Linked DNA regions of Homo sapiens. The protein of the gene in region 1 interacts with the protein of each later gene in a pairwise test. Each region holds a gene or a part of one and is shown in the gene's direction. Other genes may lie near its edges.

Region 1 (3,848 bases):
ACTAAACTATCCACAGGCATTCCACCAATACCTTTTCTGTGTGTCTCAGTGACAAAATAGGCCTTCTCACTCAGTACAGGAGTATTTTCTCCCTTAATTTTTTAAATTCAAAATATTTCAAAATATAATAAAATTGACTAAGTCAGCCAAGTAAAGGCCGGGAAACAAAGACTTTTTTTTTTTGGACCTCTTTTGACCTCTGGCTGTGTGTGCAGGTACCAGACGGAGCAGTCCCTGCGGCAGCTGGTGGAGTCCGACATCAACAGCCTGCGCAGGATTCTGGATGAGCTGACCCTGTGCAGGTCTGACCTGGAGGCCCAGATGGAGTCCCTGAAGGAGGAGCTGCTGTCCCTCAAGCAGAACCATGAGCAGGTAAGAGTCCCAGCCCCCAATATCCCAATACTGAGAGCTCTGTGATCCCCCTGAATAGGATAAGGTAGGATTTGATTTGCTAAGCACCCTAGGCCTAACAACATTTTGCTGGTTGCTCAAAACATACTTTGGGGCTTGTTGGGGAATGAGTGACAGCTTACCTTTTTTACATAAAGGAGTGTGGTAAGCTGACCTACTTCCCCTTGGGACCAGACATGTATGGCTGAAAGGTCACACAAATATCTTTAAACTACTGTCTACTGTTTGATGCTATCTATTAGCTTCTGAAGAGGTGCCAGGTAGGTTAATGACCAAGACTGGAAGGAGATAGAAAACATTCTTACACTCTGTTTCACCTAGATAACTAGAACTCAAGCTAGATAAATGGATAGATGGATGAATGGATGGATGGATGAACTGATGGATGGGAAAAACGGGAGAAATGAAATAACTCAAATAATGGTTGATTCAGATCTCATGGCTGAATGCAATACTACGAAATCAGATGCATGTCTCAAACATTAGACGTTTTCATGATGAAAACATGTGTCATACTCTAGTAGTATCCCATGAAATAAATAGGAGGAATGAAACCTGGTTTCTCTATATTTAAGTAGCAACAATTGTAAGCCAATTATCATGCCAGGCTTATCACTGAGCAAAGGGGAAATAAGAAAGAAATGATAGAATCTTGGACTGGGTAGAAATATTAGCAATCATTTAATGAAGCAGCCGTATCATACAGATGAGGGAAGGGATTCAGAGAAGAGGCCAGAATTTCCAGAGGTGACAGCTGGGCTTCAACTCATGTTTCCTAAGCTGCAATGCAATCCTCTTCCCATTATATTGAACTGCCTCAAAGAAGTTATTGAAAGACTTCTTTCTGTGGGTTTATTTCTTCCCTTTTCTCCATTAGGAAGTCAACACCTTGCGCTGCCAGCTTGGAGACCGCCTCAACGTGGAGGTGGACGCTGCTCCCGCTGTGGACCTGAACCAGGTCCTGAACGAGACCAGGAATCAGTATGAGGCCCTGGTGGAAACCAACCGCAGGGAAGTGGAGCAATGGTTCGCCACGCAGGTGGGCATCTAAGCACGTGGCCACTCAGGACCCGAGGCCCCCCAGGGCCCCGGAGGCAGGGTCTGATCCTTTCTCCCCTTGGGTGTTTCAGACCGAGGAGCTGAACAAGCAGGTGGTATCCAGCTCGGAGCAGCTGCAGTCCTACCAGGCGGAGATCATCGAGCTGAGACGCACAGTCAATGCCCTGGAGATCGAGCTGCAGGCCCAGCACAACCTGGTGTGTATTGTTCAGACCTGCTGGTGAGCGATGGGAACTTGGGAGGCAGAGTCTTGGGGATGCCCTTGGGGCCACACACTCTTCTTAGCTCTTGGAGCTTGTGAGTTTTTTCGAACCCCATGGAGGAACCCTATAAGGAGCAGCTCTCTGACATTCCTGATCTTTCCCACCACAGCGATACTCTCTGGAAAACACGCTGACAGAGAGCGAGGCCCGCTACAGCTCCCAGCTGTCCCAGGTGCAGAGCCTGATCACCAACGTGGAGTCCCAGCTGGCGGAGATCCGCAGTGACCTGGAGCGGCAGAACCAGGAGTATCAGGTGCTGCTGGACGTGCGGGCGCGGCTGGAGTGTGAGATCAACACATACCGGAGCCTGCTGGAGAGCGAGGACTGCAAGTGAGTACCTGGCGGACGGCACCCCTGCAAGGGACAGGCACTGTTCTACTGTAGGATAAAACAGAGACTTTGAAAATCAAGTTTCAGATGCCAATCTGTCTGTAGAGGCGAGAGTTTTATATTACAGCCGTGGGAAGTGTAGGATATTTGTTGCTAACATTATCTGGGCTAAAGATACTTTCTTTTACAAAAGATAGTCATGGGACTTGACTCCTTCCTCCAGTAGAGATTTTTTGGATGTTGATGGCCAAATAAATCTTTCTGTCTTCAGGACTGTCTTGTCACCACAAAAAGGAAAATGAAACTGTAACAATGATCACTTTTTCTGATTTAAACAGAACTTTCAAATCCACCGTTTCATTAATTCTTGTTAGAATCATCTGAGGCAGGCAGAGTGGGAATCATTATCACCTTCTTATAGATGAGCATTTGAGTGTCAATAGGGTTGATGATCAATAACTAACAGTACAGCAGTTGCCAGCGAACATAATATTTTTATGAACACAGTCTTGTGGAATTTTCATAATCCTGTGTGGTTGGTACTACCAGTCCTACCTTACAGGTGGGAAAGCTGAGGCTTAGAAGGAGGAAGTGACTTTCTTGTGTGTCTAGGGTCATACAAGGAAGGCTGGGATTCCACCTTACATGTTCTTTGCTCATTTCTGCCACTGTATCAGAACTCTGTAGAAGGAGTGATCCAAACAAGGCATGGCTTCCTAGGACATCAGAGAACGGGTTCTGCTTGTTTCTGTGTCTCTTTGGATTGAGTCTCCCTTGTTTGAATCACCCTTCTCATGCTGACAGTCTAATGCTTCTGCATCCCAGGCTGCCCTCCAACCCCTGCGCCACCACCAATGCATGTGAAAAGCCCATTGGATCCTGTGTCACCAATCCTTGTGGTCCTCGTTCCCGCTGTGGGCCTTGCAACACCTTTGGGTACTAGATACCCTGGGGCCAGCAGAAGTATAGCATGAAGACAGAACTACCATCGGTGGGCCAGTTCTGCCTCTCTGACAACCATCAGCCACCGGACCCCACCCCGAGGCATCACCACAAATCATGGTCTGGAAGGAGAACAAATGCCCAGCGTTTGGGTCTGACTCTGAGCCTAGGGCTACTTGATCCTCCTCACCCCAGGTCCCTCTCCTGTAGTCAGTCTGAGTTCTGATGGTCAGAGGTTGGAGCTGTGACAGTGGCATACGAGGTGTTTTGTTCTCTCTGCTGCTTCTACCTTTATTGCAGTTCCCCAAATCGCCTAATAAACTTTCCTCTTGCAAAGCAGACATGATTCTCATTTGTATTCATTCTTTTCAAAGTGTTGACTCTCTGTGTGCTTCTTATAAAGCCACTTGAAAGCAGAAGGAGGACTTTATAGGTTAATCATCTCCTAAAAGGTCTTCATCACCTTCATTAACATTCATTAAGCACAGTGAGTCCCAGCATCCACTTAGGCCAGCATAAAACAAGTAGGATCACTAGGACAAGAGGCCTCGTCTGAATATGATAAACATATTTCTCATGGGACCTTACTCAGTAAAATGCAACGGTGAGCATCTCTAGACAGTTCCACTCATTCTTTTAAGTCCCTAGCAGGGATGACAGAAGTTAATATTTATTGAACACCTACCAAATGCCAGGAATTGTGCTACTAATTTTTTCTCTTCCTCACAGTGAGGAAGAATCAATGGCAGGACTGAACCCAGAGTTCACTCTCTGCTTGTCAGTTACACATGAGGTGTGATTATGAGAGGACAAAATTGATTTCAAACAAGCACCCAGAGCTTA
Region 2 (7,824 bases), on another chromosome or scaffold:
TTCACACGGATTTCATAGAACATAAGGTGTTTGAGCTGGAAGGGACCTCAGAGATCGGCTCCTCCTGCCCCCTCATTTCATGGAGAGGGGAGCAGGCCCAGACAGGGAATGCCACGTGCCCAGGGGCACATAGCAAGCCGGGGACCCCGCGGAGGGCACAGACCGCTGAGCTCCAGAGGAGGGTCTTGGGAGGTGCCCTGGGGGCACAGGCCGTGGCGGCTTTGCCACTCCCTGGCTTGCTAAGAGCCCCTTGAAGTCCAACCCAGCTCTCTGCTGCTCAGCCACAGAGCTCTCGCTCGAGTGCCTGGCGGGAACAGGAGTAGGCAGGACAGGGCCCTGTCCTCAGGAGGCTCCCAGGCTGCTACAGCGGCCATGCAGCCGCTGGGGAAGGGCTGGAGAGCATCCAGGGAGCCAGAAGTGGGGCAGGAGGAGCCAGGGCAGGCTCCCTTGAGGGTGGGGCTCCAGGCAGAGTCTGGAAGCCTGAGGAGGCCTCACTCGTGCCTGCGCCCCCTCTCCTGGCACACAAGGGCCAGCCCGAGGGCCCCACTCTGGGGGCAGAGTGTAGGGAAGAGGCTGGAAAATGGGGGCCAGAAAGAGACTGTCCTGATCCATGGCTCCCAGGGGTCGTTTTGGCTGGGGGCTCACAGCACACATCCTTCCAGACACCCAGGACGGTCAGAAGGAACTGGCAGGAGTTAGAGGGCACGGTGTAAGGATGCCAGGGGGCCGGGCCGTCAGAAGGTAACAGGAGCGAAAGTCCCAGAGCAAGGCCCCAAGGAGACCCAGGGCGCTCTCTCCGCTCGAGGACAGGAACCCGTGGAGACCTTCCCCTCCCTGGAAGAGCCAGCTCTGCACCAGAAGGGTGGGGGGCTGTAGCACCCCTCCCAGGGGAACACGGACCTCACTCTCCGCCCCCAGCTCCCAGGGCCCATCTCAAACTCGGACCCTGTCTCAGGGACCTGCCCTGGCCCACAGGACTCCTCTCTTCTCCAGGTCTGAAGATGCCAAGAATCCGGACATCCCAAGGCCTCCCTGCTGAACTTTCCCACCATGCCGGCCCCCGCCTTGCCCTCGCCGGCCCCCGCCTTGCCCTCGCCGGCCCCCGCCTTGCCCTCGCTGGCTGCCTGTTCTAGTTTTTCTAGTTTTATTTGTTGTTGTTGTTGTTGTTTTTTGAGATGGAGTCTTGTTCCGTCGCCCAGGCTGGAGTGTGGTGGTGCGATCTCCGCTCACTGCAAGTTCCACCTCCCGGGTTCACGCCATTCTGCTGCCGCAGCCTCCCGAGTAGCTGGGACTACAGGCGCCCGCCACCACACCCGGCTAATTTTTTGTATTTTTAGTAGAGACAGGGTTTCACTGTGTTAGCCAGGATGGTCTTGATCTCCTGACCTCGTGGTCTGCCTGCCTCGGCCTCCCAAAGTGCTGCTGGGATTACAGGCGTGAGCCACCGCGCCCGGCCTTTTTTTTTTTTTTTTTTGTGGAGACCAAGTTTCGCTCTTGTCGCCCAGGCTGGAGTACGATGGCGCGATCTCGGCTCACCACAACCTCCGCCTCCTGGGTTCAAGCGATTCTCCTGCCTCAGCCTCCTGAGTAGCTGGGACTACAGGCGCCCGCCACCACACCTGGCTAATTTTGTATTTTTAGTAGAGACGGGGTTTCTCCATGTTGGCCAGGCTGGTCTCGAACTCCCGATCTCAGGTGATCCGCCCGCCCCGGCCTCCCAAAGTGCTGGGGTTTAATCCATCTTTAACCCACTGCAGCATCCCACTGGTCTCTGCCCATGGGCATGGACTCTGACCCTCCCCTCCCTGCCTCCAGGCCTACAGCTTCTTTCCTGAAGGTCCTCTCTGTTCCTATTATCCCTCCCCTGGGTGACTGCAACCCCCATCAATCTCATCTCCAGGCCTACAGGCTCCACCATCCATCCCCTCCTGCCAGTCCCCAATATTCCTGTAGCACAGCGTCCTCTGTTGTTCTGCTCAAAAGCCACGCACAGCTCTCTACTTCCCGCTGTACAATTTCCAAGCTCCTAGGAATAACACTCAGGTTTCCCTTCCCAGCTGACCCCATCCTACCTTACCAGCTTGATTACCTCCCGTTTCCTCCAAGGAACTGGGCCACACTTTGGCCACCTCGGCACAAAGTGCCCATCTCCTAGCACTCTCAGCCTATGCATATTGACTCCCTCCACCTGGGGACTGTCTTTCTCTCTCGTGTCGGACTCTAGCTCAATCCTCAAAGCCCAGTGCAAACCCTCCCTCCCCCAGAAGCCTTGCCCTCACTACTGATCACACTTGCCTTAAATCTTTGTTAGCAAGGACATGTCCTCCTGAAGTGAGGCCTGTGTTTCTAAGTCACATTTCTTTCTCTTTTCTTTTCTTTCTTTTTTTTTTCCCCAGAGTCTCGCTCTGTCACCCAGGCTGGAATGCAACAGCACAATCTCAGCTCACTGCAACCTCCTCCTCCTGGGGTCAAGCGATTCTCCTGCCTCAGCCTCCCGAGTAGCTGGGATTACAGGCGTATGCCACCAGGCCCAGCTAATTTTTGTATTTTTAGTAGAGACGGGGTTTCACCATGTTGGCCAGGCTGGTCTCAAACTCCTGGCCTCAAGTGATCTGCCTGCTCAGCCTCCCAAAGTGCTGGGATTACAGGCGTGAGCCACCACACCTCTTTCACCAATTTAATAACTGCTTATGGAGGCCCAGAGCTGGCTGCTGGGGACAGCAGTTGACCAAGACAAGCTGCTTCCTGTGCCCGGAGAGCTTACACTCCAGAGGGTGAAACAGATGGCAAACACAGCAACCAAGAGACATAATGATCAAAGATTCCGAGGCCTGCTGGAAGCCAAGAGAGGGGTCTGTGATGCAGGCACCCAGAGCTCCCCATTTTCAAGAGAAACCAGAGACTTGGATTTTTATGTAAACTCTCCTAATTTTAAAGGTTGCCAGCGCAAGCCCGTTTCCTCTGCTCTCTCAAGGCTCCCCTCCCCGCCTGGCCTCCCACTTTCTCCAGCGCGCCTGCCTCCTTCTCTTCCTGGGGGCCCCATCCGCACTCCTCCCCCTGCAGGATGCCCTACTTGCACCCAACTCCTCCTGCTGCCCGCGCCCTGGGGGTACCTGAGCAGCAGCTGGCAGGACGGGGTCCACTGGACTGGGAGTCCACTGCCCAGGACCCTGGGGCCAGTGCACAGCAGCTGCTGAGGCCCCCAGCTCAGACCCTGGGCCAGCCATCCTGAAAGAGGCCTTGTAGCGCGGGTGGACACCTGGAGTCCCCAGGGCTGCAGCTGCAGAAGCTAAATGCCTCTACCCAGGCCCAGTGCACACACACTGGGGGTTGGTCTGGAAGAGCTGGGGGGCCAGAGGAGTGAGACAAGGAAGGGTTCTGAGAGGGCTTCCGGGTTTGACCCCCAGCTCTGCCAGGTTCCTGGGGATTAAGTCTACAGGGATTTCTGCCATGGGACGGTTTATGTTCTCTGGAGCTGGAGATCACAGGAACAAATCCTAGCTCTGCCCTTCCTAGCCTGCTGACCTTGCACAGGCTCCTTGCCTTTCTGGGCCTCGGTTTCCCCATCTGGACACTGAGGGCAGTACCCACCTTGCAGGATAACTTTGAAGAGGTCGTGTGCCTGGCACACAACAGTGCTTGCTGTAGGGCAGGCTTCCACGGCCTCTGCCAGGCCCTCTCGAGGAATCACTCTGCTGGGCAGTGCCCCCCATCTGTGTTTTCTCAGGCCTCTGACCCGAGAGGCAGCCAATTGTTTGGACTCTGGGCACTGCCAGCTGGGAGGGCTCAGGTCTCTGAAGGGCCCAAGGTCCTGGTGACAGCTGTCAGGTCTCCGGGGACAGCTGGGTCATCTCTCCAGCTCCCAAAGAAACACCAAGAAGCCCCTGCATGCCAAGGACACCACCCCTCTGGACCACTGTGCCCCAGCTCTGACCACTGCAGTCCCATCTTCTCTGTGAGAGGGGGTGACAGAGCTCCAGTGCAGCCCAGGTTGGGGAGGTGGGTCTGCCAGGGACCAGCTTAGGATTTGGAGAATCGGCCCTGGCCACCTGAAGGTCCGAACCTGGAGGAGAAGGACAAGGGGCCAGCCACACAGCCTGGGCAGGGGCCTCTGCTTTCCACCTTTCAGACCCTGAGGGCAGAGTCCCGTGGGAGGGGACCCTCAGGGGGCCGGGGGCTGGCTGCCACAGCGACTTCCTCCTTCCCGCAGATCCCCAGGCGTGCACAGCAGGCAGAAGCTGTGGGGGAGATCGCAGCGCCCGCTGTGTCCTCCCGGTGACCAGCTGTCACCTGAGCCCAGGGCGCCTGCCCCAGCAGCCTGGTGTGTTTGCCAAGCCAGGGCTGGAGCTTCCTGGACCCGCCTACCCTGGAGGGGATGGAGCAGTGAAGGGCACCGGGCCAAGCGCTAGGCATCTGGGGCTAAGGAGACAGAAGCCCGCGGTGCCCGTCCATGCGGGCCCTCTGCCCCAGCACCCACATCTCAGGACACCCCTTCCTCCCAGGTCTGGCGGTCCAGTTTGGGGGTCACCGAGCTGGGGTGGTGTGCAGCCAGCAGAGGGGATTCAGGATCCCGGGGTGACTCCTGGCCCAGGCCTGTCACCCCACAGCTGGCTCCTGGCCCCAAGGCAGCCACGGGCAGGGGTCGTGATCGGGGGCGGGACGGGGCCCGGACCTCCTGACCGCCCCCCACCCCCCGCCGAGCGGGGGTGTATTTGCATGTCCCCGCCCCACGCACGGCATTGGCGGCGGCGGCGGGAGGCCGGGCCTGAGTGGCTGCGCGCCCGTGGAGCGGCGGGGGCGGGGCGCGAGCCGGGCGCCCGGGATGATGCCGCCGCCGCCGCCGCCGCCGCCGCCGCCGCCAGGGGAAGGGTTCGGGTCCGGGTCGGGCTCGGCGGGCGCGGGGTGCGGGACGGCCCAGGGCACGGCGGCTGCAGCGGGAGCACACTGAGCGCCCGCCCGCCATGTCCAGGAAGAAGACCCCCAAGAGCAAAGGGGCCAGCACCCCCGCTGCCTCCACGCTGCCCACCGCCAACGGGGCCCGACCGGCGCGCTCCGGGACTGCGCTTTCCGGCCCCGACGCGCCGCCCAACGGGCCCTTGCAGCCCGGCCGGCCCTCGCTTGGCGGCGGTGTCGACTTCTACGACGTCGCCTTCAAGGTGAGCCAGGCACCCGCCCCCCAGGCCAGCGCAGCAGGTGGCGCCCGGCCTGAGCCAAGGGTTGGGGGTCGGACAGGGGGTGCAGGGCCCGCGGCCCCAGGGCGCGGAGCCGACGCGGGAGGAACCCCGTGGGGCTTGCACGGTGCATCGTGCACACACAGCTGTCCATCCCAGGTCTGGGGTATCCAACAGCTGGCAGGGCCTGTCCCCCACCCCCCAGGCGGCATGGTGGCACAAGGGGTCCCGCGCCCCAGTGCCCTGGCCCCCGCCCGGGGTCTCACCATTTCCCGTATGCTGCCCTCCCTCAACCCAGCGGCTGTGGGCCTTTTTTTTTTTTTTTTTTTTTTGCTGGGGGGAAGAGGTTTGCCAGATGGATGGGGAACCCTGGGACTCCAGACCAAGGCAGAGGCTGTGTGGACTTGGCAGGGGGCTGGGAGGACCATTTTGGGTTTGGTAGCACAGGTTTCGGGGAGAAGGCCTGACTGCTGCCCACTTGCACCTCCCCCCAACCTCAGACTTGGCCCAGGTCCCTCTTCAGATCGAGATCTGATCCTAATGGGGCAAATTCCTCGAGCCTTGCTGGGGTCATGTCCCTACTGGGATGTGGAGAAGCCCCCGGCAGAGGCCTCCCCAAGTCTCTTAGGAGGTACCCAGCTGCCACCCCACCTGCTCCCCTCCCAGATGCTGTCCACCGTGTGGGGGTATGGACGTTAGGGAGGGTCCGGGATGCAGGTGGCTGCCCTCACTCCCCGCTGACTGAGACGGCCACTGTGCAGAAGGACAGAGCAGCCCCAGCCTTTCAGAGGCATACGCTGGGTGTCCAGCCCATCGGGGTCCCTGGCCCCGCTGAGCCTGCAGGCCTGGGCTGCCTCCCTCCACTCCTGCTCCTCACCTGCAGCCCCCTTCTGACCAGGCCAGCTCAGGGCAGACCAGACTCCCCCCAACCCTCCTGCTTGTCCTAGGTCATGCTGGTGGGGGACTCGGGTGTGGGGAAGACCTGTCTGCTGGTGCGATTCAAGGATGGTGCTTTCCTGGCGGGGACCTTCATCTCCACCGTAGGCATTGACTTCCGGGTGAGTGGAGGCCCTGGCCTGGCCCCACATCAGAGTCCCGCCGGTACCCGAGCAGCAAGTTCTCTCTGATCCCCATGGTACCAACAGGCTCGAGGCCTGGACCCCAGAAGCTGCCTGCCTCGACCTTCCAACACCTGGGCTGGTGGCTGCACCCGACAAGCATAGTTAGTTGCCCTATGCCAGGGGCTGGCATTACCGAGGGACCATATCCTGTGCCTTGGGGGAGGCGGACACTGTTGCCTACAGGGTGGTGGGTCAGAGGAAGTCAAGGGCCACGTCCACTTGGGGCCAGCAGTGCTGCCTCGGTACAGAGGCCTTACTGGGCCCTAGAAGCACATGCTCCCTGCAGAGCCTGAGCGAGGGTTTCCAGGGCTTGCCTAGGGGAGAGGACCCTGCTCTTGGGTGAGGAGCGCCCACCCCCACCCCCACCAGCTGGAATTCCTCGTGCTGAGGTGCCGGCTTGTCCTCAGCAAATCTTAAATTTGCATTTTTCTCACCCTTTAATTAGAGCCAGTTAGAGGGAGGATGGAGGAAGGGCTGTTCCAGGGACAGGAAAAGGGGCTCCCTCCAGTCTGGGGGTTCCAAGTCCCCTCAAGTCCTCTGGGATGGAGTGACGACTGAAGTGCCCGAGGGGGGCAGGCCAGTCCTGTCTGGTCCCCACTTCCCCACCTCCCTCTTGGCTCTCGGGCAGGTGGTAAGAGGTGAGGCCATTTGGTTCGCACTCTCGTTCAGGGTGCCAGGGAAGGCGGTGTCCTCCCCAGCCCAGCAGATGGCCCTGCCTGGTTCCCGGGAGACCCAGAAGCACTCTGACAGCAGGAGCTCAGGCTGAAGGAGGTGGCACAGGTTCCAGCTGCCCAGGGCCTCAGACTGCGGCTGAAGCCCCCCGCCCCCACCCCAACAGATGGGACTGGGGCTAGACCACTCCCTGCCTTACGTCTAATCGTTAACTGGGAGGGCCCGGCTGGGGACGCTGCCAGGCAGTTCTGGGATCTGCGGTTACTGCCTTGGGTCAGACAGGCCCAGGCCCAGCCCTGACAATCCCAGCAAGGAGTGGCTTTAATTTTTTATTCTTTTGAAGCAGGGTCTCACTCTGTCGCCCTGGCTGGAGTGCAGTGGTGATCATGGTGGACTGCAACCTCCAACTTCTGGGTTCAAGCCATCCTGAGTCTTTCAAATTAGCAAAAAGAGCTACTGGGAAGGCTGAGGCGTTGCAGCTCGTTAGTTACTGCACCCATTTGCAGATGAGGAAACCGAGGCAGTGTCAGTAAGAGGCCTGGTGGGGTCATGAGTTCAAATAAGTCAGCGTAAGAGGCTCTAAGCAGGAATAGTGCAGAGGCTGCCGGGAGAGGCCTGCACTTGCAGGTGTGGGTGAGGTCAAATTGGCTTAAGGGAAGCCTGCAGGGGCTGGGCTGGACCTGGGAGCTGGGAGGTCTCAGGGGACAGGAAGGCAGTGAAGCTAGTGGGACCAGAGGCTGGGCTGGGCCCATGCCAGAGCTGCCTGGTTCTGTCTGTTTCAGAACAAAGTTCTGGACGTGGATGGTGTGAAGGTGAAGCTGCAGGTAAGGTGACTGGCAGAGGACAAGTTGGGGGACAGG
Region 3 (7,032 bases), on another chromosome or scaffold:
GCTGTTTTCAAAACATTTGAATTCCTTGCAAAAAAAAGTAGTTGAATTAGGGTTTAAAAACCAATAAATTTTTTTTTTTTTTTTTTTTTTGAGACGGAGTCTCACCCTGTCGCCCGGGCTGGAGTACAGTGGCAAGATCTTGGCTCACTGCAAGCTCCACCTCCCGGGTCCACGCCATTCTCCTGCCTCAGCCTCCTGAGTAGCTGGGACTACAGGCGCCCGCCGCCACGCCCGGCTAATTTTTTGTATTTTTAGTAGACACGGGGTTTCACCGTGTTAGCCAGGATGGTCTCGATCTCCTGACCTTGTGATCCACCCCCCTCGGCCTCCCAAAGTGCTGGGATTACAGGCATGAGCCACCGCGCCCAGCCAAAAACCAATAAATTTTACATAGAAAATCCAGATTTCCTGTTTCTCTTGGGGTAAAAAATGGGAATATGTGACACTGCTAAACTACCTTTCTTGTATCTGCTGGAATTTAGGAACTGCTGATCTAAAAAACTATTCATTTTAAACAGTTCCACCTATCAGTAAACACATAGTCTACTTTACTCTTTACTGTTATCAGTCTAAATCTTCTAGGCATATGAATTTGCAACACCTCCTCTAAAAGTACATACATAGTCATTTTAGAATTATGGCAATAGGCTTAATGTGTTTTCTCAGCTGTAACTGTTAACCACCCCTTTAATTGAAGGGTATATATTACATTGTGATATTTCTATTTTAAATGCTTAGTTCATTTCTTGTAACATTTTGACTTCTTGATTGGTAGTATAGTTTTTTAAAAAATTGATCTTGAAAGTAGGGAAAGGAAAAATTAGATCAATATATTTTGATTTTATATGTAGCAATTATAAAATAATTTTAAAAAGAAGTTGCCTTTATATATACAAAAGATTCTTCCTTTCTATTTTTGTTCTTTTTTAATTAGGTGGGTTTGGAGGATTTGGGACAACATCTACAACTGCAGGTTCTGCATTCAGCTTTTCTGCCCCAACTAACACAGGCACTACTGGTAAGAGGCCATCTTAAGTCATTCATAGAAGTAAATGAAGTAGAGGTCAGATTTTTTTTTTTTTTTAACTTACGAAGTTCCAATTTTTCATTCAAAGGACTCTTTGGTGGTACTCAGAACAAAGGTTTTGGATTTGGTACTGGTTTTGGCACAACAACGGGAACTAGTACTGGTTTAGGTACTGGTTTGGGAACTGGACTGGGATTTGGAGGATTTAATACACAGCAGCAGCAGCAAACTAGTAAGTATGAGGTTTTCAGCTTCAAATACAAAACCGTGATGATACTAGCTGACATTATTGAGTGCATTCAGAATACTTTAGTGGACTTTTTATAAGAATTATTAATATATTCCAAAGGATTAGGAATGTTACTTTTCATGTTTAAATATGATAGCAACTGGGGAGAACACTGATTGGCACAGTTAGGATTATAAGGTCCCTGTGTTTAGGATCATTCCATTTAAATTTTTGTTGTTAAAAATAACAAATAGAGAAACTGCACAAAAGTACAGCTTAATGAATTATATATAAGTTTACAAAGGTTAACACCCTTGTAATCACTGCCCATGTCAGGAGATGGTTCCTGGCCAGCCAGTTCAGAAGCCTACCACATTTCCCTACCAATTGCTTCCCCATCAGAGGACCTGCAGTCTTGGCTTTTATGGTGATCATTTTCTTACTTTATATTTTGTCATTCAAGTATGTAAACAGTATTTGGTTTTGCCTGTCTTAAATCTCCATAGGCTCCTCTTTTATCTCTCTTTTTTATTTATTTTTTATTTTTTGAGACGGAGTCTTGCTCTGTCGCCCAGGCTGGAGTGCAGTGGCACGACCTCGGCTCACTGCAACCTCCGCCTCCCAGGTTCAAGCGATACTTCTGCCTCAGCCTCCTGAGTAGCTGGGACTACAGGCGCACACCACCACGCCCAGCTAATTTTTGTATTTTTAGTAGAGACGGAGTTTTACCATATTGGCCAGGCTGGTCTGGAACTCCTGACCTCGTGATCTGCCTGCCTCGGCCTCCCAAAGTGCTGGGATTACAGGTGTGCGCCACCGCGCCTGGCCTCTCTTTTTTATTTTTTAATTTGTTGAAGAAAACAGATCATTTATCCTATAGAGTTTTTTAGTCAAGACTTTTCTGATTGCACGCCTATGGTATAGTTTAACACATTCCTTTGTTCTCTGTATTTCTTGATGATTGGGTTAGATCTGGGGCGTACATATATATATTTTGTTGTTTTGTTGTTTGTTTGCAAGACTATTTTATAGGCCTATTTTTTATCAGAAGACATATAATATCTTTTTTTTTTGAGTGATCAGCCATTGAGCCATTGGTGATCATTACCTAGATCCATTAATTCATTAGGGGTTACAAATAGTGCCATTCCACCTGGATTCATTTATTTGTTGAAATACTTCTGTGAGGAGAAACTTGACTTCATCTGTTTGGTTGATTCTTTCTCTTTATTACTGGTTTTCAGAATAAAGAGTTGGTTATCTAGCATTCTCCAAAGATGACCAATTTTTTTTTAATGTCAGAAACTGCAGCCTTTAAACTAGTTACTATTTTTTAATCCATTGCAGTTACCATTCTTATTGATGCTTAAATTGTTACATCTTTGGCCAGTGCAAGCCTTTTCAAGTTGGCTCCCAAGTCCCTTTGAGACAGTCTGGTTATTAGTCTTTGATGGCTTCCTTACTAACCATCCTTACTAGGTGGTATGGCAGTAGGTTCCAGGGGTTGTTCTGTATGGATTAACTTATTCTCACAAGAACCCTGTGAAATAATACTTTTGTTATCCCCATTTTATGGGTGAAGAGAGGAACCTGAGAGATTGTGACTTACCTGTATACCTCTCTAGAAGAAGTACAGGGATGCAAATTCAACTACTCATTCTAGTGCTCTTTTCACTTTTCCAATCTGATGCCTCTTAAAATTACTTCTGTTTCATTTTTTTAAGTAACTTGATTGACTAGCTAAAATTCATCCTACTCAGTCACTGAAGATTAGTTATTAACTTATTAAACATGAATTTCAAGGATTGCCTAACAGTAGGATGAAGATAATAGAATAGTATTCTCAGAATTATTCTTTCAAGTATTCCAGTCATTCGTCTTTTCTACAATCCTGCAAAAATACAAAATTTGATGAAATATTTAAGTAGTTAAGGAAAGAACAGCAAAAGTGAAGTGTTTCCTTTGTTTCTTGAAATAAAGTCTCTCCAACTATGAGTAACTGTAGTTACATTTGGTTTTTTTAGGAAAATGGGAATTTGAATCTGGTGCTATTTTAAAATTGAAAGGGGCTCATTTTGTTATGTAATATCCATTTATTGTATATATCGTATGTCAGGCATTGGGTGTACAAGGTTGAAGACCACAATCCTTGCTCATAGTCAAGGAGATTCTAGGGTATCCACGCAGAGGAAATAACATGGCATGGTTTATGGCAGAGTATAATGCCTTTGGGACCAGTATAACTAGATCAGTGCAGTTTTTTTAATGCATAAATGACCTCAGGGTCAGTAGTGAGAGTTGGAGAGATAGATATGAATTGGATTATTAGCGTGCCTTATATGTTTTACTAAGGAGCTGTCCTTTAAGCAATTCTAAACTGTTGTAGGATTAAGTAGACAGGAAAATAATCAGATTTTTAGAAGTATCTCTTAGAGAAATACAAAGATAGATTATAGGTGGGTTGGAATGGAGGCAGAGATCTGGTGAAGCTGTTGCCAAAATCTGAGCAAGATATAGTGAAGACCTGAATTAAGGCAGTGACAGTTAAGAATGGAGAGAAAAAACAGGATGTGAATTTGAGAGAGATTTAACTTGTAGAATCAATAAAAGCGAATGACTGGATAAAGGTATCTTGGGCTTCTGGGTGGCGTAACTGAAGGATCCCTTGCTCTTCACTAAGATCCAGAATACTAAAGCAAGAGCAGATGTTTGTGGGTAGATAATGAGTTTGAGGTGTCCCTTGGGTAGTTGTATATATTTATGAAAGCCATCAGAACGTAAGTAGTATTTAAAGTGGTAGATATGGATGATGTAATTTAGGAGACCTGATTCCAGAGTAAGAGGAGAGTACTAGAACAAAACTCTTAGAAACACTAACACTTAAATGCTGCCATCTCCTATCCCCAAGCCAAGTAGGATTTTGACCATAAATTAGCGAGCAGCATTGTTAGGACCACTGCTTGTCCTATCTCAGTATAGAGATGCCCGTCCATGTATTCCTCATACTTATTAGCTCCCTTTTACTAATCACAGCTATTCCTATCTCAGTTGGCAATACCTGTGAATCAAGGGGAAAAGTCACATTTGACTTTGTGACAACCGCCAGAAGTCCTTTCCAAGCCAAAGCATGGATTATCGAGGATCCTTCAGAAGACTGTTGGATCTTTCGACAACTGATACTTTCTGCTCTGTTAGCTCTTTCTGTCTTCACTACTCTAACTAGCTTAGATTCCATGGCCTTCCATTTCTATATCTCTTGCCAATATGCTAAACTTCCTTGTTTTTGTGTCACATTTGCCTGAAAAAACCCCAAGCCTTTGTAAGCCCAACTGTCTGTGTAGATATTGCTTGAGAAAGATCACACATTATGGAAGAGGGGATAATACCTCTCTAAATTCTTGATCACCAACCTCAGGTCTCAATGTTGCCTGGTAATCCTGTGAAATTTCTACTTTCAACTTATTCTCCTGCTTTCTATAGCAGTAATTTTAAACCTTTATTCTCTTCAAATCTCAAATTTATCTGTTCTTACTTTTAGCAGATGGCCTTGACTGCTACTTCCAAGACAAAAAAGGGCTGAGCGCAGTGGCTCACATCTGTAATCCCAGCACTTTGGGAGGCTGAGGTGGGCGGATCACCTGAGGTCAGAGACCAGCCTGGCCAACATGGTGAAACCCATCTCCACTAAAAATACAAAAATTAGATGGGCGTGGTAGTGCACACCTGTAGTCCCAGTTACTCGGGAGGCTGAGACATGAGAATTGCTTGAACCCCATAGGCAGAGGTTGCAGTGAGCTGAGATCGCACCACTGGACTCCAGCCTGGGTGACAGAGCAAGACTCTGTCTCAAAAAAAAAAAAAAAAAACCAAAGAGAAAATAAAATCCCTTATTGCAATTCCTTCAACTTCCCTCCACCAAATCTATTTTTTTTCTCCCTCTATCCACCTTTTCCTCTTTTTACCTGACTCAGGATCTTATAACCTCCTGCCTTTTCAGGGCGCATGTGCTGTTGATTATTCTAGCTGTACTCCGTTCCCCAGTCTTCACCTTCTCATCCACATTTAAGTAACTCAAAGTTTATTTTTTCTTGAAACAGTAATAACAACAACAACAAAACTACTTTAATCCCACATTTCACTTCAGCTACCACTCTCCTCCCCTTTACAAACTATTCGCCAATCTGGTTTCTGTTTTCTTTATTTTATCAAATAAGTTAAGGTCATTAATCATCTCAGTAAATCCAGTGAACACTTACTGTTCTTTATGAAAAATGCTAACAAAGAAAAAAAGAAGTGATGTGAACCCTACCAGCTGGAGTCATCAAAAGTCAGAACTTGTTATTGTCCATCTCCTTTTTCCTTTTTTTAAATCACTGATGTATTTGAGAGCAAATCCCAAGCGTGTCATTTCATGCTTACTTTACTATACTTCTCTCTTTAAAAATGTGTACCTCATTCCAACCCACAATAATTCCTTGGTACTATCTAATACCCCATCTATAACCAGAGTTCCCTATTTGTCTCAAAAGCGTTTTCTTATTTGGTTTGTTTGAATCATGATCCAAACAAGGACCACACATTCATTTTCTTGTCATGTCCCTTAAGTTCTTTTTAGTGTAGAGAATTCCCCATTCTGTTTTTTCCCTCATGAATTTTCCAGTTGTCTTGTTAAATGCCCCCCATTCTGTATTTTTCTTCTGCTTCCTTGTAATATTATTTAACTTTATCTCTCATAATTGTGGTAAATAAAGTTTGCTTTAGGGACTTGACGTTTGCTTTTTTGGTAAGAACATTTTGCAAGTGGTGCTGTGTGCTTCATATCACGTCACGTTGAGAGGCTATCTCACTTTTGGTGATGCTAAGATTGATCAGTAGGTTCAGATGGTGACAGCGTATCTTTATCTTACTACTTTAACCTAATGGTTTCATTCCTTGATGATCATTGCCTCAATCAGTTATCTTATTAGGAGTTGCAAAATGGTGATTTTCTAATTTCCTCCCTATCACACTGAAATTTCTTCTGTAAAAGGAACTTTTTCTTCATCCTCCAAGACTGCTTGATCACCCTGATGTACAGTTTGTATAGTAAAGGCAAGATAATTTTTTTTCTTTTTAATGGACAATTTTTGTAAAAAGGAGTTGGCGGTCTCATTATTTCTAATGGTATCCAAGGAGTTAGGATTTAAAAAAAATTTGATCTTTACTTTATAAAATTACCATTTTGAATGCATGGGCTTTAATAAATATGTTTCAGTTGTTGCATTTGGCCAGTGGGAGACCTTAACTTCTGTGACACTCCAGTCTAGTTTTTTCCTACCTCATTGTTAGTCCTCCTTATTGCTTTTGTCCACTCATCTTCCTCTCTCTGTCTCTACAGAGATGTTACACATACTGTTGGCCTTTACCTCTACCCCATGGCTTAGCTGACTCCTTCCTTTAGGCCCTAACTGAAGTGCTAATGGAACTGTCTTCTCTTGACCCCTCTCTCAGGCTTGATCAGCTCCCTTATTTAGTACTCCCAGAACCTCTGTACTTCTCTGAAGGACTTATCACAATTGTTAATATTTGTTTGATGTGTTCAGTTTGTTTAATGCACCTTGTCTACCTTGTTTACCACTGTATCTTTAGTATTTGGCTCTGAGCACTTAGTAGGTACTCAGTAAATATTTGTTGTATGAATTAATGGTGAATGAATGAATGAATGTGTTTATAAAAAACCAAGAGAGACTGTGTTGTCAGGAAATTTAAGGGAGAAGGGCTTTCAAGGAGGATGTGT

Evidence for each region.
Region 2: the proteins of KRT33B (region 1) and RAB26 interact in binary tests that used the Homo sapiens proteins (3 or more experiments, as listed by UniProt).
Region 3: the proteins of KRT33B (region 1) and NUP54 interact in binary tests that used the Homo sapiens proteins (3 or more experiments, as listed by UniProt).

What each region holds. Positions count from the first base shown.
Region 1 is NC_000017.11:41,362,994-41,366,841, reverse strand, and holds the end of KRT33B (keratin, type I cuticular Ha3-II), read left to right. Parts: intron 1-215; coding exon 216-372; intron 373-1,288; coding exon 1,289-1,450; intron 1,451-1,541; coding exon 1,542-1,667; intron 1,668-1,842; coding exon 1,843-2,063; intron 2,064-2,888; coding exon 2,889-3,006; 3' UTR 3,007-3,344; downstream 3,345-3,848.
Region 2 is NC_000016.10:2,143,823-2,151,646, forward strand, and holds the start of RAB26 (ras-related protein Rab-26), read left to right. Parts: upstream 1-4,802; 5' UTR 4,803-4,961; coding exon 4,962-5,156; intron 5,157-6,118; coding exon 6,119-6,229; intron 6,230-7,746; coding exon 7,747-7,788; intron 7,789-7,824. UniProt on the Homo sapiens protein: The small GTPases Rab are key regulators of intracellular membrane trafficking, from the formation of transport vesicles to their fusion with membranes.
Region 3 is NC_000004.12:76,138,376-76,145,407, reverse strand, and holds part of NUP54 (nucleoporin p54), read left to right. Parts: intron 1-934; coding exon 935-1,018; intron 1,019-1,115; coding exon 1,116-1,259; intron 1,260-7,032. UniProt on the Homo sapiens protein: Component of the nuclear pore complex, a complex required for the trafficking across the nuclear membrane.